Linked DNA regions of Homo sapiens: region 2 is linked to region 1. The links come from fine-mapping of genetic effects on gene expression. A gene starts in region 1. The other region holds a variant in brackets. All regions are shown on one strand. Distances are between the middles of the regions. Region 1 holds the start of SHLD2 (shieldin complex subunit 2). Region 2 overlaps GLUD1 (glutamate dehydrogenase 1).

Region 1 (12,685 bases):
AGTTTTTAATGAAGAAAACTAAGAAAGTAATTTCAAAATTATTCAATAGAAAATCTTTAAAGATAAATGGACTACACACTGGTAGAGAAATGAGTTGTTCTGGCTAACACATTAATCTCTTAAACACCAAAGTCTTCAAACCTCTTTTGATGGAAAACTGTTTAAAATGTTATTTCAGGTCTTCGGAGTTGGGTGTAGGGGAAAAAGGTTATTTCATTTCCTTAGCAATTAGAATAAATGGACCTCTAGAGATATCATCTATGCTGAGTTTTATATGCAAAGCTGTTTGAATATGTATTTTTCTAGGAAGAAGGTAGGTCTTCTAATAGCTTTTAACAGAAATTTCAAAGGTATCTATGATCCAAAGTATTAGGAAGCATTGTGTCAATGGCATGAAGTGGTTCTCAATCAGCGCTTACAATTAAAAGCCTAAGATACAATTTGTAACTTTTTGCATAAATAAATCCCAGACAACAATGATTAAGGTGGGTGCTGGAATCAGATGCCCAGAATCTGAACCTCAACTCCACTACGTACTAGCTGTGTCACCCTGCCAAAGGACACTTCACTCCTCAACCTTAGTAGCCACATTTGGAAATCAGGGACAACAGTGTATTGCATGAGGCATAAAAGCAATGATACATGAAAAGTTCTTACATGCATTGTTGCTATAAGGCATAGAACTGATGATGCATGAAAAGTTCTTAATAAAATGCCTGGCACACACAGAGCTGAATAAATGTTAGCCTTTGCTAATATCTGACCTTGGTGAAGGCAGTTGACCTCAAGTGAAGGCAGAATGTGTGTGGCTGCAGAATCTTCTAGGTGTAGTTGCCTTTTTGTAAAGATAATCGGAAGGTCTTGAGTAGCTCCTTCTCCTAGTTTGTCTTCTTGTCCTTAATAAAGCCTTTCCTGCCTTTAACAGTAGTATTTCACATATTAACAATTCCGACTTGATAGTGAACACTTGAATCTGTATTAATTTCTGCCTCTGGAAAGGGGAAAATATTGATTCATTTGAATAACTAGTCAGTTTTAGACAGCGGCATTAGATTTAAGACTGTTCATGGTTATATTGGGGGAAGGACTTGGGGTAGAGCTGCTTCACTTTTCATTTTGTAACTTTCGTTACTATTTGATTATGTGAATCATGCATGTGTATTTTATGGGTTGCTGAGTACAAAATTTATGGGCTATTTATGAATCAATGTGCTCTAAAGTGATACTAGAGATTTTTCTCTTTATTACTTACATTGTAAAAGCCTAATTATTGGGTAAAATAAATAGAAAAGAAGAACAGTCACGTGGCAGAGACTAGTGTCTAGGATTTTTTCAACATCTACAGGTTAGTATTTTAGTTTTTAATGGTTACAGAACCCTTAGTATTTTTAACATAAGTAAATAAAAACCGATTTTCCTAAGCACTCTGAATTATTAACAGCGGTAAACCTAATTTCTTCCCACTATATGCCAAAAGTTCAGGCTCAATTTTTATTTCTTGTACTTAAACACTACAAGTTGTACTGAACTTTAATATATATTGGTGCTTAGGATCCAATTTTTGATGCCCTAATTCTTACAAAGTATACTTTGGATAATGAGTGAGCAGCTGTTTGTCTTCCTGCACGTGGGGCTTTACTGCCAAAAGCAAACTTGCTAAATGGATTCATACACGCAAGTGACAGAAAGACTGAAATCTGATGTACAGATCACTACCATTACCAAGCGTCTTCATTTTCTAGTATACTTTGGGAGAAAAGACGCATTTGGCTTCCATGAAATAAAAAGGCATAAGGGCAACACATTTCCGTATTTAAATAAGATGTATTAAAAACAACAACCTCGGGGCTAAGTGCTTTTAAAAGACACACAAATTACCTATCCTCTGACTGAACTTTCAGAAAAGTCCTAAATTAAATTCACCTACAAAGGTTATATTTTATCTGTGGCAGCAGATGCAGACACACAGCCACTTAAAAATATTAGAAACTGTGAGTTTATTAAAAGTTACCTAAGTTTTGATGGTTGTCAATTGAGCACAGCAAAATAAGTCAGAAACATTTTTTCCCCCAGTGAAGGCAGAGAAATATCTCATTTTAAATCAGTATCAGTGCTTTCTATAGTCTTCCCTTAAGCGCTAAACAATGACATCCCAGAGGCTGAGGGCGTCTTTAACACTGCATTGACTCCGGTCTTCCCTTGCATTATGTCATCAAGATTCCACTGTTTCCTTCTGGCATTTTGACTTTTAAAAACTAGTTACTGGATTAATATAGGGTACACTTTTTTGGGTACTAATATTTGTAATTAAAAGACTTAGGGTCAATGTATGAGAGAACTCCATCTACGGTCCATCAACTATATGTAAATTATGATAATTTTAGAAAATTTTATGATAGTAGCATCAGTGATAGGGAATTTTAATAGTTTTAATATCAAGACAACTGGGGGGGGGCAGACTGGAAGAGAAAGTTAATTGACTCCTACCATCAATAAATTGCTATTATCAATCTGTACTTTCCCTCCAAACTGACTTTAAAACAATAAACTTCCTTCTAAAAAGGTAGACTGGTCTCAGGCAGAACCATAGCAAATGAAATACAGATAATTTACTCTGGGAAAGTTAATAGAACAATCTTTGATAATATTTCCAAACCCACCAGAACTTTTGAACCAGTCTTCTCAAATCAGTCGCATATTCTCACACTATGCCCCTTTGCTGGAAATATTTTTAAGGCCTCACTTAAACTTCCCTTCAGATCCTTTAGCTTACCCTTTCAAATCCTTAACACAGACAAATCTAACGGCCTCAGGTACATGTAGTAACTGGGAAAAGAAAAGCACAAAAACAGTGTGTATTATTAAATATTTACTTGGAAAAAGTACACATCAGCCACCAAGTCTTATAACCATCTGTTTCCCTTAGAGATTATTGCTAGATTGTTGCTTTGCTTCAACCTCAAGAATTTTAATTTAGAAAACTCAGGGATAAGGTTGTTCTTGAGGGAAAATGAGATACAGAAAGCTGAAGGTTGGTAAAAGGGTGGAGAGAGGCAGATGAGGTTTTTTTTTTTGGCAAAGAACCAATGGGAGAGAAGACAGGTTAGTGGGGAGAGGTAAGAAGAACGTGTTAAAATATGTTTAAGAGGGAAAGACAGAATTTCATAGGGATTATCCAAAGCATTTAAAAAAATCTCAATCACCTAATATATTCTGTGTTTCTAAGACTAGAGTGGGACTACAAAGGTTAACAATTTCTTAGACGTTAAAAAAGCTTTAAGAAAGAAGACCTGTCTCTCTTACAATGCACATTCTCTGCAAACAAGGGTGATAAATGGGTAGATAGATCTGGGGATGTCTTGAACACAAAGCATGGAAGGCTATAGTACCCAAATTTTGCTGATCATCTGTTTAGTATACTGTTTATTAAGCAAACTAAAATATTTAAGGGCTTTCATAGCTATGTAATCTTCCCCAATCCAGAAAGCCTTTCAAATTCCTGAAGATAATAAATTTGTCACTTTGTAGAGGCCAATTTTCTTTGATGTTCTATCAATGCTTGCAACAGTTTACTAGTAACAATTCAGTTTCTCCCTGTTTATATGCTGGGGGTTAATAGCATGTTTTTTTGTAAATGGGATAAACGGAACAGAAAATTGTATCTTACACTCTAGTACAAGCAAGTGCTACAGTAACAGTGCTTTGGTATGGCTGACCCAATTTGTTGCTAGGTTCAATATTTTGGCATTAAAACTGCTGTGGCAACAAGAGAAAGAGGACTCACAAACTATGGTAAACGAGTTGCTTCAGTGAGTTTGCGGAGCTGCGACTTATAAAAACAGGAGAGAGCTGGGCATCTGAAGAATCGAAGAAAAAGGATTTCAGAGACCAAATCATCCTGCAGAAAACCACATACACTGATTTATCTGTACACCTTTTAAAGGACTGGCAAATGCTGCCAGCAAGATAGTAAAAAATAAACTTGATGTCCGTTTTAAGAAAACGATGCAACTCAATATTTGCTAAACATTGCCTGAACTTCCTCCAACATCCTTATTTGCCTTTCTTTGGAGTCTGAACTTGTTTTCCTGGTTTGGATAATAAGGGAGTGGTAGGAAGAAGGCAGGCAAATGTAGGAGACTGACGGTGTGTACATTTTATACAATTTTGAAGCTAGAAAGGAAATCAGAGGTCAAAGTGGTTCAAACATTGGTTTTGGCTGAGGCAACCAGAGCTAGGGGATAATTAAGCTCCAAAGTTAAGTCCTAGAAGTGGGCGGGGTCAATGCAAATTTAGTAAATCTTTAAAAACAACCTTTGTCCCCCCTGCTGGGAACACCAGCACCGCTCAAGTTTTTTCCGGTACAGAGAGGATTTCTAAAAATCCTCATAAGTCAGCGGGCATAACTGAAAGACCACAGAACCAGGTTTACTGAGACATGGGTCTAGCCCAACATCCTCTGTGCTTCTCAGCCAATCCACCTCCAACAAGACTCCTCGCCTCCCTGGGCTCTTTATTCCATATAATTTTTCTTTTTTACAGTAGACAAAAGTGGTTTGTCCTTTCCATTTTATGTTACTAAAGAGGTATGATGCAATGTATTGGGGGGAAAAAAGCTCTTATTTGCTCGAAGAAAGCAATCTGACTACAGAGGCCAAATCTACAGACATTAAATGATTTAAACCACAGGATAACCCAGTGACTACCAAACATTATCTGACCCCTTTCTTCACGTACTATATTTTTCCTGAAGCTCAAATTCAGGGCTAGCCAGGACCAGTACACACCCCCAGAGCTATTTCATTCCATTGGCTGGCTGGCCATCCGCAGCCTACAACCTGTAAATTTACTGTCAGGACGCCAGGTGTTTATTTGTCAGAGATATTACATTGCTTGTGATTTTTTTGTGTTTTTCCTTTTTTTTGGTATAAAACAGAACTTGTCAGAATGGGAAAATTACTTAATTGAAACGATTAACGCGTGATTAGTAAATTCCTTTGGTTAATAAAACTGTCTAGATTTCAAACTTAGAAGCCAAGTCATTTTCTATGTTCGGATATCATCTGTCACTATTGGAACAGGAGTGAACAAATACCAGAAAATAATTTGACAGCTTGCATTTAGGGGAGACTCACAAAAGCCCAAGAACACTGACGAGGCATTATCACACGGGCAGGTCATTCCCTTTCCTAGAAGTGCATTTCGGCAGGACCCGCCGTGTGTGACACAGACACCGGGACCAAAAGGAGACCGGTGCAGCGTCTACTCTGCATGCAAGATCAGCATATACAGAGGCCCGGGGTGACGGCGCGGGGGAGGGGGCAGGCCAATCGCATGATGATTTTAAGGCGGAAAAATCACCATCCACAGAGCCGGCCACATCCGAGGCGGGGTGACCCGGGCGGGGACCCGGCCCGCTCCAGCTGGGCTGGGCTGGGCTGAGCAGCGGCCCCGCACCGGCAGGAGGCCGGAGGGGAGGGCCGCAGGGGAGGCAGGGAGGGCGGGACGGGGCCCGGCCGACGCTCACCTCCCTTGCAGGGCGTGCGGTGCTGGCTGTGCTGGGCCCGGTAGCCTTCGATGACCTCCCAGGAGCCGTCGTCGCGCCGGATGGGGAAGGAGAGACTCAGCACATGGTTGCAGGGCTTGATGATCCGCAGGATGCCGCGCACCCGGTTCCGCTTCTGCTCCTCGCTCTCCCGGGTCCTCAGGTCCTCCACCAGCTTGTCCTCCACGATGCTGGCGCCGCGATCGAAGAAGCCCTCCACCATCTTGAAGAAGTTGGGGTCGTCCTCGCGGTCGGCCACCGCCTCGCTGTAGTGGCGCCGGGCGGCCAATGCCAGCCCCGGCTGCGGGGCGGCGGCGGGCTGTCCCCGGGCCCAGCCCAGCAACGCGGCCGAGTCGGCGGACGCCGAGCCCAGGGCAGCGGGCCCGGCCCGGGACAGCAACAGCGCTTCGCCCAGGTAGCGGTACATGGCCACAAGCGGAGGGGAGGTGCGTGATGGTCGCGAAACAGGCGCGCTTTCTCAGACTCCCCGCGACTAGGGAGGAAGGGTCCCGCGCGGGTTGCCCTTTTAAGCCGCAGCTTCCTGCTTGCCCGGCTGTCCCCTCCCCTCGGGCGCTCGCCACCTAACGGGGAGGACGGACTTCGGGGACAGGGCGCCGCCCAGGGCGCCGGGCCTCCGCCTCCGCCGCGGCCTCCCCGGGCCTCGCTGGCGGCAGCGCGCGCCGGCGGGGCGTCGGGGGCGCGCAGGCGCGGGCGGGCTCGGCGCGCACGCTCGCGCGCCAGTGGGGAAGGGAGGGGAGGGGAGAGGAAGGGCGGGGAGGAGAGTGGAGGGGAACGGACGGGAGGGGCAGGGAGGGGAAGGTCGGGGCGGGTCGGGGCGGGTCGGGGCGGGCCCACGGGCGGCCGGATTTGCCCGGAGGCCGCACCCGCCTCCGGCGGGGCTCTCAGGTATGTGCGCCGCGGGGGTCCCTCAGGGGGGTTGGGGGTAGCCCAGGGAGGTCGGGGTCGGGGGCTGGCCTCTGTAGGGCGCTCAGAGGCCGAGTCCCCCCGAGCGCCGCGTGGGTGAGGCTTGGCGGTCTGGTCGGGGACCGGGTCATGTGAGTCACGGGCGCCCCTCCTTTCCGCCCGCGCGCCCTCGGAACGGGCGGCCCACCCTGGCCTGTCCTCTGGCGGCCTCAGGCCGGGGCCGGGCGTGCAGGGGCTGACACGTGGGCAGGAAAGCGAGGCAGAGCCGCCGCCGCGTAAGGCCGGGCTGAGGGCTCGGCGTCACCAGCCAGGGCTGCAGAGAGCGGCGTGGCACCCGGAGTTGGATTATGCGTGGCTGGCGTGAGCTGGAAGGGAGTCACTCGCCCACAAGCTCTCACCACGCGAGCTTTTATTGTCCCGTTCAACTGCTCCGCAGTGTGGAGATCGCATAGTTACGCACGTCGTGGTTGTGTCGCCCCACAGTACTGACTGCTTCACCTTTGCAGACAGAGGCTCCGGCCCGGCGCGGTGGCTCACGCCTTTAGTCCTAGCACTTTGGGAGGTCGAGGCTGGAGGATGGCTTGAGCCCAGGAGTTCGAGGCTGCAGTGAGCTACGATAGCTCCACTGCACCCCAGCCTGGGCAACAGAGGGAGACCCTATCTCCCTCTGAAATAGTCTAAAATAAGGAAACTAGAAATGCGATAATGCCCCCAGGAAATTCTTTCTCAGGAATATATGTATTTGTTAAATGGTTCAGTATATGATTTATTTTTTATTTTATTTATTTATTTGAGATGGAATCTTGCTCTGTCGCCCAGGCGGGAGTGTAGTGGCACCATCTCGGCTCACTGCAGCTTCCACCTCCCTGGGTTCGTTCTAGCGATTCTCCTGCCTCAGCCTCGGGGTAGCTGGGATTACAGGCCCGCGCCACCACGCCCGGCTAATTTTTGCATTTTTAGTAGAGACGGGGTTTCGCTGTGCTGGCCAGGCTGGTCTCCAACGCCTGACCTCAAGTGATCCGCCCGCCTAGGCCTCCCAGAATGCTGGGATTACAGACGTGAGCCACCGCGCCTGGCCTCAGTATATGATTTATAAGCTTTATGCTGTATGAGGGTTCAGTTATGTATTTATACATACTTGATAGGAAATGCTAAAGTTCACATTCCTATGGATAGCTTTTGGTGCTTTTCAAACTAACGAGGCTGGCACGGTGGCTCACGCCTGTAATCCCAGCACTTTGGGGGCCAAAGCAGGCTGATCGCTTGAGGCCAGGAGTTCAAGACCAGCCTGGGCTCGTCTCTATAAAAAGAAAATAAAAAATAAAGCTCTAATGACAGTCATTAAAACTAGCTGCCAAACACCACATTACTAGCGTTAGCGGTCTCAGTGTACTTGGGTGGTTTTAAAATGACACCCATTGGACCTGCAAAACGATGGTGCTTCCCGATATGTTCATGTTATTCATCTTTTAGAATATGGAAGAGAAAGTTCTTAGTTCTCGAAATATTGTGTAAAATATAAGGTGACAACCTGGATCTGTTAAATGACATTCATCTAAGTGTACTCTCAAAGTCAAAATTATCTTTTCATACAGGTGGAACTTATATTTTACCTTACTTGCTAAATAAGTCATTGTCATTAATTGTATTTGCACTGTGTTTTTCAGTGAAAAATGTACTCTGACCTGAATCCTGAATTTTCCTTGATGGTCAAAAGATTAAGGTATCAAATTTCCTTTTTTCTGGATGTATTATCGTTTTACTCTCTTACATTGCAATCCCCCACTCCTGCAAAAAACCCACGGAGTTTCAGAATAAAATGATTAGCATCAGTAAACATGGAAATATTTTTCTTTTTGGATTAAATTATTTGTTTATGTTCTGAGGAAAAATCTTTAAAAGCTTAGTTTTATTGTTTTTGTTGTTCTTTATAACCTTAGCCTTCAGAAAAATAAATGTTTAACTTTGCTTCTTCTGTGACTTGTTCACCTGAATTCAAGAAGGTGGAATTGGGCCTAAGGAGGTGGCTCACGCCTGTAATCCCAGCACTTTAGGAGGCTAAAGTGGGCGGATCACTTGAGGTCAGGAGTTCGAGACCAGCCTGGGCAACACAGTGAAACCTTGTCTCTACTAAAAATACAAAAATAAGCCAAGCGTGGTGGGGGGCCTACAAAAATTAGCCAGGCGTGGTGGCGGGGAGGGGGTTGGGCAGTGCTTGTAGTTCCAGCTACTTGGGAGAACCACTTGAACCAGGGAGAGAGGTTGCAGTGAGCCGAGATCGTGCCATTGCACTCCAGCCTGGGCAACAGAGCGAGTCTTCATCTCAAAAAAGGAAAGGCAGAATTGAAGAAGCTTTGGAAGAGGTGAGGAATAGAGCTGTGGAAATTACTATTTTTTTTTTAATTGAGAATCTCCTGTGTGTAGGTGCCTTACAAACTGGCTTCATGAGTACCCTATAAAACAGATGTTTTTATTTTTAAAATCATCATGGTTTTGTTTTGTTTTGTTTTTTTGAGACAGTCTTGCTCTGTTGCCCATGCTGGAGTGCAGTGGTGCAATCTCAGCTCACTGCAGCCTCTGCCTCCCAGGTTCCAGTGATTCTCCTGCCTCAGCCTCCCGAGCAGCTGGGATTACAGGCGCCCGCCACCATGCCAGGCTAATTTTTTTGTATTTTTAATAGAGACGAAGTTCCACAGTGTTGGCCAGGCTGTTCTCAAACTCCTGGCCTCAAATGATCTGCCCGCCTTGGCCACCGAAAGTGCTGGGATTACAGGTGTTGAGCCACTGCACCTGGTCATTATGTTTTAAAATTACATACAAGTTGTTAAAAAAATATGAACAGCAGAAATAGATTTTAGAAAAACAGAATGAAATTATCCATCTCTTCCCCCATTTAGTGAATATTTGGAGTATTTCTTTTCACACTGTAGGTATTATAATTCCTGATTTATTAGAAGCAGGGAGTGGCTGGGCGTGGTGGCTCATACCTGTAATCCCAGCACTTTGGGAGGCTGAGGCGGGCGGATCACCTGAGGTTGGGAGTTCGAGACCAGCCTGACCAACATGGAGAAACCCCATCTGTACTAAAAATACAAAATTAGCCTGGTGTGATGGTGAATCCCTGTAATCCCAGCTACTCAGGAGGCTGAGGCAGGAGAATTGCTTGAACCTGGGAGGCGGAGGTTTCAGTGAGCTGAGATTGCGCCATTGCACTCCAGCCTGGGTAACAAGAATGAAACTCCATCTCAAAAAAAAAAAAAAAAACAGGGAGTGAGGCCCACAGAAACCAAACAAATTGTTGATGATCACCAAGCTTGTAAATAGGGTAAGATTCAAACCTGTGTATCTGACTCCAAAGTTATACTATTTATACTATTCCAAGGAGTATTTTAAGTATTTGTTCCATTTAGTTAGAAATTATTTACTGTGATATAAAGTCTAATGAATTTCAACTTTAGATTTATGATTGCTTTTGTAAAATATACAGATAATTTGCAAAGTAAGGTTTTTTTTTATTTTTATTTTTCGAGACAGGGTCTCACTGTGTCACCCAGGCTGGAGTGCGGTGGCACGATCACAGTTTACCACAGCCTGGACTTCCTGGGCTCAGGCAATCCTCCCACCTCAGCCTCCTGAGTAGCTAGGACTATAGGCACCTGCCGCCACTCCCGGCTAACTTTTGTCTTTTTGGTAGAGGTGGGGTTTCACTATGTTGCCCAGGCTGGTCTCGAACTCCTGGGCTCAAGCGATATGCCCGCCTCTGCCTCCCACAGTGCTGGGATTCCAAGTGTGAGCCACCATGCCTCACACAATAAAGTTTAATTATTTGTAGTAATTTCCCATTCAAACGAAGACCAAAATTCAGCTTGAAGGGAACATTCAATAGCATTCCACAAAGTCAAATGAGTTTTCTGCCTTAGAGTTTTCCTTAGCTGGTTTAAAATTCCAGGTCTGTTTTTCTTGATCCATAGCATGCTTTTTTCTCTCTTAAAAATATTTTAGAAGAAGATTGTTAGGATTTAGAAAAACATAGCATATAAATTCTTGAACCATTCATTTTTAAAAATAATTTAATTTGAAAGGTAAAAATATACTTTCTACTTTCTGTCTCACTAAATCAGTCTATTCTGGACTTTTCCTATAAAAGATGTATGTGGCCCTTTGTGACCGTCTTCTTTCACTTGGCAGAGTATTTTAAAGGTTTATGCGTGTAGCATGTATCAGGTACTTCATTTCTTGTTATGGCTACATAGTTTTTGTTGTATGACTGTACCACATTTTAAAAATCTATTCATCATTGATGGACACTTGGATTATTTCCACTTTTTGACTATTCTGAATGATGCTGCGGTGAACTTTTGTGTGTGCATATGTTTTCAGTTCTCTTGGGTGCGTTTATACCTAGGAATGGTACTTCCATATTTAAATTTTTGAGGTACTGCCAAACTTTTCCACAGTGGCTACACCATTTTAATTCTTACCAGCAGTGAATGAAGGTTCCAATTTCTCTACTTCTTCACCAACACTTGTTATGTGTGTTTTTTATTATAATCATCCTAGTGGGTATGAAGTATTTATTTGCAGTTCCTTGATGACTAATAAAATTTAGCATCTTTCATGTGCTTATGGACCATTTTTATGTCTTATTTGGAGAAATGTCTATTCAGATCCTTTGCCCATTTTTAAGTCAGGTTGTCTTTTATTATTGATTTGTAAGAGTTTTTTTTTAATATGTTCTAGATGTAAGTTCCTTACCAGATTTGAAAATGTTTTCATCCATTCTTTAGGTTATATTTTCCCATTTTTCATAGTGACTTTGAAGCACAAAAGTTTTTAATTTTGATGAAGTCCAATTTATAAATGTTTTCTTTCGATACTTATGCTTTTGGTATCATATGTAAGAAATCATTGTCTAATTGGACTTCATGAAGATTTACTCCTTTGTTTTCTTCTAAGAGTTTCATAGGTTTAGCTTTTACATTTAGGTTTTTATCCATTTTGTGTTACTTTTTCCGAGAAAAGGATCCAGTTTCATTCTTTTGCACGTGGCTATCCAGTTCATTTGCTCAAAAGACTATTTCTTTCCCATTGAATTGTCTTCACACTCTATGAAAAATAAATTGACCTAAATGTGAAAGTTTATATCTGGACGCCAGTTCAGTTCATCCATATGTCTATCCTTATATCAGTATACATTGTCTTGATTACGCCAGTTTTTTTTTTTTTTTCGAAATGGAGTCTCACTCTGTTGCCCAGGCTGGAGTGCAATAGCGCGATCTTGGCTCACTGCAACCTCTGCCTTCCAGGTTCAAGCAATTCTCCTGCTCCAGCCTCCTGAGTAGCTGGGATTACAGGTGCGTGCCACTACGCCCAGCTAATTTTTGTATTTTCAGTAGAGATGGGGTTTTATCATGTTAGTCAGGCTGATCTCGAACTCCTTGACCCAGGTGATCCGCCCGCCTCGGCCTCCCAAAGTGCTGGGATTACAGGCATGAGCCACTGTGCCAGGCCGATTACTCTAGCTTTGTAGTAAATTTTGAAATTGGGAAATGTGAGTCTTCCAAATTTTTTTTTTCCAAGATTGGTTATTCTATCTCCATATGAATTAGGATCATGTTTCCAATTTCTGCAAAGAAGTCAGCTGGAATTTTGATAGGGATTATGTTGAATCTGTAGATCAATTTGGGAATTAGTGTCATTTTAACAATATTACATCTTCTGATTCATTAACATGGGATATCTTTCTGTATATGTAGGTCTTTTAAAACTTCTCTCAGGACTGTTTTATCACTGTCAGAGGATAAGTTTTGCACTTCTTAAAACCAAGTAAGCTAAGTTAGCAATTCCCAAAAATTATATGAGATGGTAACTCCCGAAATTCTGTGGCATAACAAGATTATTTCCTTAATGGCAAGCATATTCTGGCCCCAGAATAATTTAGAATCAAGTATAGAATTCAAGAGAATCAAGGCTGCAGCAGTAATACTTTGAGTCTATACCCTTGTGTATATTTGGCTTAAATGTTTTAGGAGAATTGGCCTTTGAAAATTTAAGATATTTGTTATTTCAAAATAAAATGTGTAATCAACTAATACAAAGCAAGTTTTGTACTTTTTGTTGAATTTATTACTAAGTATTCTTTTTGATGCAATTGTAAGTAGAAATATTTATTTATTAAGAGATAGGGTCTTACTGTGTGGCCCAGTATGGCCTTGA
Region 2 (12,685 bases), 50 kb before region 1:
GAAGCTGCCCATGCACACACATGTTGGCAAAGCCATGTGCGGTGTTACCGTGGGCCTTGGGGAAGATGCAGTGTAGAAGGAGTGTGTGCACTGGTGTGTGGCCCTGGGAGCTGCCCCGGGGGAGCTCTTCGCATTTCAGGCATGGTCCACCAGCACTGGAGCTATGATGTGGGCCCCTAGGGTGCTCAAGGCTTCCCTGCAATCAGGCATGGCCAGGCTGGACCCTCAGAGAGGCCAGCGAACCAAGGAGTGCTCAGGTAGGACCAGCCCTGCCTGATGAGTAAGACTGCATTGCGAAGTTCAGGCCCAGTGGTTCCCTTAGGGTGAAAGTCTCCTATGGGAGCAAGTTGAGTCTAGGGGTGTGGCTGTCCTTGGCTGTGCTCCACTACAGCTGCTCTCACACCAAACCCTCTGGGTTCATCAGCTGGCTGCTGCCCTGGCTGCTTCTCCAAGCTTCTCTCCCTTGCAACTCTACTGTCCATGATGCTCAAAGGATCTCCTGCCAGGATTCCAGAGGCTGGACATAAGAAGCATTGCTTCTTGCAAGTTCAACTCACCCTTTCCCCCAGTCATTGGGGGCCAGGAATGAGTTCCAGGGTGCAGTAGCCCCATGCAGGCCTCCCAGCTTACTACCCCTTTAGCCTAGCTTCTGTGTCTTCCCTCCATCTACTCTCAGTGCCTTCCCTCTGAAGATCCATTAGTAGTGCACCAGTCAAATCAGTCCCTCGGTGGCAGCTGTTGCACCTGGCTGCATCTAGTTGGCCATCTTAACATGTATATTTCCATAACTAATTTTTGTGTGTTGATTTTGTACCCTGCAATTTTGCTGAATTAAAATTAGCTCTAGTAGGTTTATTTGTTTGTTTGCTTTTTGGCTCTGTCACCCAGGCTGGAGTACAGTGGTGCAATCTTTGGCTCACTATAACCTCCACCTCCTGGCTTAAGTGATCTTCCCACCTCAGCCTTCTGAGTAGCTGGGACTACAGGTGTGAGCCACCACACCTTGCTAGTTTTTGTACTTTTTGTAGAGATGGGGTTTTGCCATGTTGCCCAGGCTGGTCTTGAACTCTTGGGCTCAAGCAACCTGCCTGCATTAACATCCCAAAGTGTTGGGATTACAGGTGTGAGCCACCATGCCTGGCCAGTAGGTTTATGTATGGGTATATGTGTGTGTATGTATTCTCTTTTCTTGTTATAGGTCTATTGAGATTTTCTATTTCTTCTTAAGTCATATTTGGTAATTTGTGTGTTTCTAGGAATCTACATTTTATCTAGATGTCTAATTTTTGGAATATAATTTTTCATAGTATTGTCTTAAAAATCTTTAAAATTTCTGTAAGATCAGTAATAATGTCACCATTTTCTTTCTGATTTTAGTTATTTACTATTCTCTTTTTTTTTCTGAGTCAGTCTAACTAAAGGTTCATCAAATTTGTTTTTTTTTCCCATGAACCAACTTTTTGTTTTGACAATTATTTTTCCTCTATTCTCTATTTCATTCTGCTTTAATCTCTAGTATTTCCTTCCTTCAGCTGGCTGTAGGTTTAGTTAGCTCTTCTTTTACACCTTAGGTCAAGCTTGTCCAACATGCAGCCCAGGATAACTTTGAATGCAGCCCAACACAAATTCATAAACTTTACAAATAACAGAAAACAGTATGAGATTTTCTTGAGGTTTTTTTTTTTTTTTTTTTTTAGTTCATCACCTATTGTTAGGGTTAGTGCATTTTATGTGTGGCCCCGTAGCAGGACGAGCTGCAGACAAAACTACTCAGACACTGAGTTAAAGAAGGAAGGGGTTTATTCGGCTGGGGGCATCAGCAAGACTCCTGTCTCAAGAGCGAAGCTCCTTAAGTGAGCAATTCCTGTCCCTTTTAAGGGCTCACATCTCTAAGGGGGTGCGCATGAGAGGGTCGTGATCGATTGAGCAAGAAGCAGGTGTGTGACTGGGGGCTGCATGCCCTGGCAATTAAGAACAAAACAGGACAGGGATTTTCACAGTGCTTTTCTATACAATGTCTGTAATCTATAGATAACATAACCGATTAGGTCAGGGGTCGATCTTTAACTACCAGGCCCAGGGTGTGGCGCTGGGCTGTCTGCTTGTGGATTTCATTTCTGCCTTTTAGTTTTTTCTCTTTCTTTCTTTGGAGGCAGAAACTGGGCATAAGACAATATGAGGGGTGGTCTCCTCCCTTAGCCCAAGACAATTATTCTTCCAATGTGGCCAGGGAAACCAAAAGGTTAAATACCCCTTAGGTGTAAAGTTAGGTTGTTAATTTGAAATCGTTCCTTTTATCTTTTCTTTTTTTTTTTTTTTTTGAGATGGAGTCTTGCTCTGTCACTAGGTTTGAGTACAGTGTGCGATCTTGGCTCACTGCAACCTCTGTCCCCCGGGTTCAAGTGATTCCCTTGCCTCAGCCTCCTGAGTAGCTGGGAATACAGGTGCGCACCACCATGCCCAGCTAATTTTTTGTATTTTAGTAGAGACGGGGTTTCACCATATTGGCCAGGATGGTCTCGATCTCCTGAACTCATGACCCACCCACCTCGGCCTCCCAAAGTGTCAGGATTATAGGTGTAAACCACCGTGCCCGGTCTTTTTTTTTTTTTTTAATAAAATAAATATGAAACACTTCACGAATTTGCATGTCATCCTTGCACAGGGGCCAGGCTAATCTCTGTATTGTTCCAATTTTAGTGTATGTGCTGATGAAGCAAGCATGAGATTGTCCTTTTTTAATGAAAGTATTTATTATTATTATTATTTTTTGAGATGGAGTCTCGCTCTGTCGCCCAGGCTGGAGTGCAATGGCATGATCTCGGCTCACTGCCAGCTCTGCCTCCTGGGTTCACGCCATTCTCCTGCCTCAGCCTCCGGAGTAACTGGGACTACAGGCGCCCGCCACTGCACCTGGCCAATTTTTTTTTTTTGTATTTTTAGTAGAGATGGGATTTCACTGTGCTAGCCAGGATGGTCGCGATCCACCCGCCTCGGCCTCCCAAAGTGCTGGGATTACAGGCATGAGCCACCGTGACCGTCTGATGTAAGTATTTCCAGCTATAAGTTTCACTGAGTACCCCTGTCACACCATCTCATAAATTTTGGTATCTTGCATTTTATTTTAATTCATCTGAAAGTATTTCAATTTCTCTAGTCATTTCTTCTTTGAGCCACTGGTTAAGAATGTTGTTTAACTTTCACTTACTTGCAAATTCTCCAGGTTTTCCTGTTATTGACTTCTAGCTTCATTACACTTTTGTTGGAAAAGACACTTTGCATAATTTTTTTTTTTTTGAGACAGAGTCTCAGTCTGTTGCTCAAGGTGGAGTGCAGTGGTGTGATCTCGGCTCATTGCAACCTCTGCCTCCCAGATTCAAGCAATTCTCCTAGCTCAACCTTCCAAGTAGCTGGGATTACAGGTGCCTGCCTCCACTCCCAGCTAATTTTTTGTATTTTTTATTAGAGTTGGGGTTTTGCCATGCTGGCCAGGCTGGTTTCGAACCCCTGACCACAGGTCATCCACCCACCTTGGCCTCCCAAAGTGCTGGGATTACAGGCATGAGCCACCAAGCCTGGCCTGTTTTTTTTTTTTTTTTTTTTTTTTAAGACAAGTCCCGCTCTGTCCTGCAGGCTGGAGTGTAGTGGTATGATCTCAGGTCACTGCAGCCTCTGCCTTCCAGGCTCAAGCCATCCTCCTGCCTGAGCCTCCTGAGTAGCTGGGGCTACAGGCGTTCACCACCACTACAGCCGGCTAATTTTTTTATTTTTTATTTTGGTAGAGACAGGGTTTCACCATGTTGCCCAGGCTGGTCTTGAACTCCTGGGCTCAAGTGATCCGCCTGTCTCAGCCTCACAAAGTGCTGGGATTACAGCTGTGAGCCACCACACCTGGCCCTTTGTATAATTTTGACCTTTTAAAATTTATTGAGAATTGTTTTGTGGCCTAACATATGATTTATCATGGGGAATGTTCCATGTGCACTTGAGAGGAATATATATTCTGCTCTTGTTAGATGGATATCTTTCCATATGTCTGTTAGGTCTATTTGGTTTAGTGTGTTGTTCAATTCCTCTAGTTCCTTACTGATTTTGTCTAGATGTTCTATTTACTATTGAAGGTGGGGTATTGACTGGACACAGTAGGTCAGGCCTGTAATCCCAGCACTTTGGGAGGCTGAGGTGGGCGAATTGCTTGAGCTTGGGCATTTGAGACCAGCCTGGGCAACATGATGAAACCCCATCTCCACAAAAAATACACAGATTGGCCGGGTGTGGTGGCGTGTGCCTATAGTTCCAGCTACTGGGGAGGCTGAGGTGGGAGAATCGCTTGAGTCTGGGAGGCAGAGGTCGCAGTGAGCTGTGATAGAGTCACTGCACTCCAGCCTGTGTTGAAGTCTCTGTTATTGTAAAACTATTTCTTCCTTCAATTTTGTTAGACTGTGCATTTTAGAGCCCTTTTTTTTTCTTTTTCAGTTCATACGTATTTATAATTGTTACATCTTCTTGTGATTTGACTCTCTTACCAACATACGATGTCTTTCTGTAACATTTTTTGGCTTAAAATCTATTTTGTCTGGTATTAGTATAGCCACCCCAGCTCTCTTTTGGTTACTATTTGCATGGATTATCTCTTTCCGTCTTTTCATTTTGAAACAATTTGTGTCTTGGGTCTACAGTGAGTATTTTGTAAGTTGCATATTTGGATTGTGTATTACATCATTTAAAAAAAATCCATTCTGCCGATCTTTCCATTGGTCAGATTATTTACATTTAAAGTGATTACTGAAACAAAAAAGTTAATTGACCGGCATGGTGGCTCCCGCCTGGAGGTGAGGCTGCAGTGAGCCATGATCGCACCACTGCTCTTCAGCCTGGGGGACAGAGAGATTGACTCAAAAACAAAAAACAAAAACTTACTTATGGTTGGACTCAGGCCTGTAATCCTATCACTTTGGGATGCTGAGGTGGGCAGATTGCTTGAGCCCAGGCGTTTGAGACCAGTCTGGGCAACATAGCAAGACTCCTGTCTCTACAAAAAATAGAAAAATAAGCTGGGCATGGTGGTGCACACCTGTGGTTCCAGCTACTCAGGAGGCTGAGGTGGGAGGATCAGCTGAGCCTGCGGAGGTCAAGGTTGTAGTGAGCCGTGATTGTGCCACTGCACTCCAGCCTGGGCAACAGAGCTAGACCCCGTCTCAAAAAAACCCCAAACAGGCCGGGTGCAGTGGCTCATGCCTGTGCCTGGCACTTTGGGAGGCCGAGGCAGGTGGGCCACTTGAGGCCAGGAGCTCGAGAGTAGCCTGGCCAATGTAGTGAAACCCTGTCTCTACTAAAAATACAAAAAATTACCTGGCTGTGGTGGTGGGCGCCTGCAATCCCAGCTACTCAGGAGGCTGAGTATCACTTGAACTTGGGAGGCAAAGGCTGCAGTGAGCTGAGAATGAAACACTGCACTCCAGCCTGAGTGACAGAGCAAGACTCTGTCTCAGACAAACCCCAAAAAAGAAAAACAGAAAAACCTATACACCAAAGAACTTACTTACGTCATCATGCTGTTTAGTTTCTACATGAAGTGTTTTGCTCCTCAGTACCTTCTTTTGTGTTTGGTTAATGATTTATCCTGTAATATTTTGATCCTTTCTTAAATTCTTTTCTGTATATTTTAAAAGTTATTTTTTTAGTGGCTACTATGAAGATTTCATTTAACATGCTGAGTTCAAAGTCTAGTTCAGACTGATAGCAACTCAGCTTCAATAGCATACATTAACTCTGCTCCTTTCTCTGTCCCCTACCTATAGTTAACAAATTATGTCTTTAAACAATTAGTGCCTATTAACATAGATCCATATTATTTTATGCATTTTTTTTTTTTTGAGAAGGAGTCTCGCTCTGTCGCCCAGGCTGGAGTGCAGTGGCGCAATCTCGGCTCACTGCAAGTTCCGCCTCCTGGGTTCATGCCATTCTCCTGCCTCAGCCTCCTGAGTAGCTGGGATTACAGGCACCCGCTACCATGCCCAGCTAATTTTTTGTATTTTTAGTAGAGACAGGGTTTCACCATGTTAACCAGGATGGTCTCAATCTCCTGACATCATGATCCACCTGCCTCGGCCTCCCAAAGTGCTGGGATTACAGACTTGAGCCACCGCGCCCGGCCTTTATGCATTTTTTAAATCACAAAGAGGAATAGCATACCCAAAATACAGTAATACTAGCTTTTATATTTAGCGACATAGTTGCATTTACCAGTGCTCTTTATTTCTTCATATAGCTTTGAGTTACTATCTTGTATCCTTTCATTTTAGCCTGAAGGACTCACTTTAGCTTTTTTTTTTGAGCCCGAGTCTTGCTCTGTTGCCCAGGCTGGAGTGCAGTGGTGCAATCTCCACTCACTGCAACCTCTGCCTCCCACATTCAAGTGATTCTCCTGCCTCAGCCTTCCATGTAGCTGGGATTACAGGCACGTGCCATCACACATGGCTAATTTTTGTATTTTTAGTAGAGATAGGGTTTCACCATATTGGCCAGGCTGGCCTCAAACTCCTGACCTCAGGTGATCTACCCACATCAGCCTCCCAAAGTGCTGGTATTACAGGCATGAGCCACTGTGCCTGGCCAAGAACTCTTATATTTTTATTCATTTATTATTTTTGTTTAGTGACAGGTTCTTGCTCTGTCAACCAGGCTGGAGTGCAGTGGTGTGATCAGAGCTCACTGTAACCTCCAACTTCTGGTCTCAAGTGAGCATCATGAGTAGTTGGAACTACAGATGCA[T/C]ACCACCATGGCCAGTTAATTTTTTAAATTTATATTTTGTAGAGATGGGGTCTATGTTGTCCAGGCTAGTCTTAAACTGCTGGCTGCAAGCAATCATCCCGCCTCAGCCTCCTGAATAGCTAGGACCACAGGCCTGAGCTACCCTGTCTGGCTAATTATTTTTATTTTGTATAGATGGGGTCTCCTTACGTCACCCAGGCTGCTTGTGGACTCCTGGCCTCAGGTGATCCCACTTCAGCCTCCCAAAGTGCTGAAATTACAAGCGTGAACCCATGCTGAGCTCCCCCAACCCCCCCTTTTTTTTTTGAGATGGAGTCTTGCTCTGTTGTCCAGGCTGGAGTGCAGTGGCACCATCTCAGCTCACTGCAACTTCCACCTCCCGGACTCAAGCGATTCTTGTGCCTCAGCCTCAGTCAGCTGGGACTACAGGTGCACGCCACCATGCCTAGGTAATTTTTTTGTATTTTTAGTAGAAATGGGGTTTCACCATATTGGCCAGGCTGCTCTCAAACTCCATCCACCTGCCTTGGCCTCCCAAAGTGCTGAGATTACAGGCGTGAGCCACCATGCCTGGCCCCAGCTCCACTTTTGCATTCTTTTTTTTTTCTTCCCTGAGAGTAACATGGGGGAGACTTTAGCATTCTTTATAACACAAGTTTACTAATGATAAACTCCCTTGACTTTTCTGGGACTGTCTTAGTTTCCTTCATTTTTAGAGGTTATTTTTTTTTTTGAAAGATATAGGATTCTTGGTTGACTTTTTGCTGTCAGAACTTTTAATATATCATCTGTCAGTGGGAGAGAGGGGAAGAAGTGTCCTACTGCCTTCTGTACTCCGTGATTTCTGATAAGCAACTGTTAATCTTACTGAAGATCCCTTGTACAGGATGAATCACTTACCTCTTGCTGCTTTCCTGTCTTTAACTTTCTACAATTTGATAATAATGTGCCTCAGTGTGGATCTCTTTTAGTTTATCCTGCTTTGAATTTGTTGAGCATCTTGAATGTGTAGATTCACAACTCCCATCAAATGTGGGATATTTTTGGTCACTATTTTTATTATTTATTTATTTATTTATTTATTTATTTAGAGACGGAGTCTCGCTCTGTTGCCCAGGCTGGAGTGCAGTGGCGGGATCTCGGCTCACTGCAAGCTCCGCCTCCTGGGTTCACACCATTCTCCTGCTTCAGCCTCCCCAGTAGCTGGGACTACAGGCGCCCACCACCTTGCCCACCTGCTAATTTTTGGTATTTTTAGTAAAGATGGGGTTTCACCATGTTAGCCACTGCACCTGGCCTGGTCACTATTTCTTAAAAAAATCTTTCTAGGCCAGGGCACAGTGGCTCACACCTGTAATCCTAGCACTTTGGGAGGCCAAGGTGGGCGGACTGCTTGAGCCTGGGAGTTCAAGACTGGCCTGGGCAACATGGCAAGACCTTGTCTCTCCAAAAATACAGAAATTAGCTGTGCTTGGTGGTGGTATGGGCCTATAGTCCCAGCTACTTGGGAGGCTGAAGGGGGAGGATTGCTTGAGCCTAGGAGGTAGAGGCTGCACTTAGCCATGAGCCGTCAGATCACACCACTGCACTCCAGCCTGGAGGACAGAGCGAGACCGTCTCAAAAAAAAAAAAAACAAAAAACAACAACAAAAAAAAACCATAGGGATATATCTATCTGCATGACTATAGATTAGGCAATGGTTTCTTACATACACCCTAAAGCACACCAACCAGAGGAAAAATTAATTATGTTTTCTCAAGATTAAAAAGGAGACTATCAAGAAAGCACAAAGATAACAGATTGAGAGGAAATATTTGCAAAGTATATGCATGATAAAGGTCAATTATCTAGAATATATATTTCAAAAATTCATTTAGAGATAGGGTCTTGCTATGTTGCCTAGACTAGTGTTGAACTTCTGGGCTCAGGTGATCCTCCTGCCTCAGCCTTCTGAGTAGCTGGGACCATAGGCCTATACTACCACAACTGGCTGTGGAATATGTAAAGCACCCTTACCACTCAATAATGCGGACAAAACCCAATTTAAAAATGAGCAAAGGCTTTAAATAGAATAAAAATGAAACATTTAAGACTGCTGAAAGTGGTTGCCTTGGGGCAGTGGAAAATGGTGAGGCAGGTGGTGTCTGGATTGGAGGGGACGAGCTATTGTGAACAATAAACCTTGTATCACTATTTGGCTCTCTGGATCACGGTTCATAACAAGGGATGAATTTGTTCCACAGGGGACATTTGGCAATCTGAATATATTTGTCATTGTTATAACTGAGGGGGTCTTCCTGACATCTAATGTGTAGAGGCCAGGGATATTACTAAACATCCTACAAGGCAGAGAATTACATAGCCTAAAATGTCAACAGTGCTGAGGTGAAAAACTGAAGTATGTTTGAGGCTGGACGTGGTGGCTCATGCCTATAATACCAACACTTTGGGAGGCTGAAGCAGGTGGATCACCCGAAGTTAGGAGTTCGAGACCAGCCTGGCCAACATGGTGAAACCCCGTCTCTACTAATAATACGAAAATTTGCTGGGCATGGTGGCGCATGCCTGTAATCCCAGCTACTCCGGAGGCTGAAGCAGGAGAATCGCTTGAACCTGGAAGGCGGAGGTTGCGGTAAGCCAAGATCACACCACTGCACTCCAGCCTGGGTGATAGAGTGAGATTTCGTCTCAAAATAAATAAATAAATGAAGTATGTTTGATAAAAATACAAACACAAGTCAATAAAAGTCTGTTAAAAATATTAAAAAATCATAAAAACAATATTTTGTACAATATCCATAGATGTAGTTTTCTTCATGTGCCATGCTTTGACTACCTTAACAAACAGCAGGGCTGGGAAAGCCTGTCAGGGATGTTTAGTGAATATGGAATTTATTTGCTTGTGAGTTAACATGCCAGGCTTTTCTTTTTTTTTGAGACAGTCTCACTCTGTGGCCCAGGCTGGAGTGCAGTGGCGCAATCTCGGCTCACTGCAAGCTCCGCCTCCTGGGTTCACGCCATTCTCCTGCCTCAGCCTCCCAAGTAGCTGGGACTACAGGCGCCCGCCACCACGCCCGGGTAATTTTTTTGTATTTTTAGTAGAGATGGAATTTCACCATGTTAGCCAGGATGGTCTCCATCTCCTGACCTTGTGATCCGCCTGCCTGGGCGTCCCAAAGTGCTGAGATTACAGGCGTGAGCCTCCGTGCTCAGCCATGCCAAGCGTTTTTAAAAAAGTAAATCAGCTCTTTGGCTAGTCATGGAGTAAAAAAAAAAAAAAAAAGGAAAAGAGAAAAAATATAGAAAAAAGGAATGACCAATCCTACTAGTTAGGGTGCCAAAAGCACTGAAAATTCATGCCTTTACTTCTCATCTCCTTAATCAGGGATATTAGAATACACTGGTGTAGAGGCTCATAAAGCACCAGTTAAGTCTTCTTCAGGTGCTATATAAGTCATCTATGGCTATTTCAGAAGCAAGTAACTTGAGTATCGTGTGTGAGTTTTAAAAATAATTGAAAATAGGTCAGGCACAGTGGCTCACCCCTATAATCCCAGCACTTTGGGAGGCCAAGGTGGGTGGATCATGAGGTCAGGAGTTTGAGACCAGCCTGGCCAATATGGTGAAACTCCATCTCTAATCAAAATACGAGAAAATTAGCTGGGCGTGCTGGCACGCATCTGTAGTCCCAGCTGCTAGGAAGGCTAAGGCAGCAGAATTGCTTGAACCCAGGGGGCGGGGGGTTACAGTGAGCCGAGATCACGCTACTGCACTCCAGCCTTGGGGACAGAGCGAGACTCCGTCTCAAAAAAAAAAAAAAAAAAAAAAAAAAAAGAAAATTTCTGTCAAGGTAAAAAGAGTAATTGACCAGATTTTTAAAAACTAAAACCTTCAGGAGCCAAAATTACTGACACTAGTGCTCTCATCTTTATATAGCTAGCACAGGCAATTTAGTTTTCTAATATTACTATCAACAATACTCCTCAACATTAATCTTTAAAAAATTACCATTGGCCAGGCATGGTGGCTCATGCCTGTAATCCTAGTACTTTGGGAGGCCAAGGTGGAAGGATCACTTGAGTCCAGGAGTGTGAGACCAGCCTGGGCAACATAGGGAGACCTCGTGTCTACAAAAAAATAAAAACAATTAGCCAGGTGTCGTACCCATACATGTGGTCCTAGCTACTCAGGAGGCTGAGGTAGAGTAACTGCTTGATCCCAGGAGGTAGAGGATGCAGTGAGCCGTGATTGCACCACCGCACTCCAGCCTGGGTGACAGAGCAAGACACTGTCTCAAAAAACAAAAACCAACCCCCCAACCAAAAAAAAATCAGTATTTCCAATATATAGTCAAAGGCCACCACTAAGACTTATCCCACATTCACATGACTTAAATCTGCTGCCCCACCATTATTCTAACATTCTGGAACTGGTTTTTGTATCACTTTCCCCCTTACACATTTTAGTAGCCCACCTAGAGTGCAGATAGACACCACCATGCTGGGGAAGGGCTCACTATGCCCATATACTGGGGGCCTGTTTATCTGACTGACCCTATGCCAGGAGCATGCAGAGGCAGAACTGTGACATACGGACAAAGACCAAATGAAAGCCAGGCTTCACACTGGCAGTTAAGTAACTGGTGGAATCAAGTCTAGAATCCAGTTCTGATTACAGTTAGTATTCTCTCTTCAATAGTTGTTACATTCTGTGGCTAAATTATTCCACATTAAATCCCCTTTAGTGAAAAACGGCACTAAAAGTTACTTCACTATCAGCTTTCAACATTAGAGCCTCTTTCTCAAGAACAGCTGTTCATATTATTTAATAAAATACAAAATAATTCGAGAATAAAGACTATGCTTTCAGGGATCATTTCTATAGTTCGTTACTCGGGAAGTTTCTCTGAACGTGTAAAGCACCGAACAAAAAAAAAAAAAACAATTCAAGAATAAAATCTGGGCAGCTCACAATAAAGTGGAAGGAAATGTTATACAGGTGGTCGCTATAAACATTTCAGAAATCCAATTGCAGTATTATAACTTATGAAAAGAGAAACTACCACATGTAAAAACACAGAAAAGAAACGTAAGTTTTGGAAAACGTAGACTTTTAATAACTGCTTTTATCACCAGGTTAAGCCATGCAGTTACAAAGTAGTTAGAAATTTCTGAAGGGTGTTAGAGTTAAAAAAAAAAAAAAAGCTGACTCTTACACATATATTATCTAGCACTTCATGGGGACACTACTGTTCAAAAGGCCCTGGCCAAATAACTCCCAAATGAAACACTCAACCCAAGGATGTTTTCAGCCCACTGTTAGTGAAGCTGGGTGCAGAATGCAAAGCCTCTAAAAGGAGAGGATACAAAGTCAGGTGAGTAGGGGCCATTGGCAATGCTCAGAGCCAGCCAGACTCCAAACAGGGAGCCCAAGTGGTTTTTTTCTGGGACACTCTACTTGAATTATTGTTTAATTAGTCAACCATAGATCTTCAAAAGAGAACAATTAGTTAACATGATAAAAAGTGACTGCATTCTTTGGACTGTATCATAATTATAGTAAGCAAATTCTGACAGTTTTAATGAAAATAGCCTCCACCATTTTGCAGGTATGAAGATAACTTAATTATCCACAGGGCTTTTAATGTCTGCTGGACAATACATGAATGATAAGCTATAAATGACATTGTTTTATGATATAAAAATACTAGTTTTTTTCATTTATTATTTCTATAGGCATTCACTGTTTGAGTCAAGGTTAGGCTTGTTAAGTGATTAAAGGCAATTTTATTACAGCAGCATGTACTTATTCTATTCTAAAAGAATAATATTCATAAACAGAAACAGGTTTTATATTTGTTTGCAACCTGCAAAATTGAATTATTTTGCTGATATAAAATACTAAGAACTC

The links. PIP is the estimated chance that this variant, and not a neighbour inherited with it, causes the effect.
Region 2: its variant is the best candidate, but not a certain one, in a credible set for the expression of SHLD2 in whole blood (TOPMed, PIP 0.68).

What each region holds. Positions count from the first base shown.
Region 1 is chr10:87,088,798-87,101,482 of GRCh38, forward strand. It overlaps SHLD2 (shieldin complex subunit 2), which reads left to right and starts at 6,409. Exons shown (of 10, transcript NM_001330112.2): 1 at 6,409-6,451; 2 at 8,137-8,192. GLUD1 (glutamate dehydrogenase 1) reads right to left here and starts at 6,046. Exons shown (of 13, transcript NM_005271.5): 1 at 5,528-6,046. The coding sequence starts at 5,972. RefSeq lists enhancers at 4,058-4,595, 7,000-7,059 and silencers at 5,280-5,619, 5,820-5,959, 6,080-6,779, 6,700-6,957.
Region 2 is chr10:87,038,618-87,051,302 of GRCh38, forward strand. GLUD1 (glutamate dehydrogenase 1) reads right to left here. Exons shown (of 13, transcript NM_005271.5): 13 at 11,585-12,685. It also overlaps the pseudogene RNU6-529P. Among named protein-coding and RNA genes, the nearest start is that of FAM25A, 25 kb to the left of the region's middle. The variant T/C (reference allele first, on the strand shown) is at 6,775.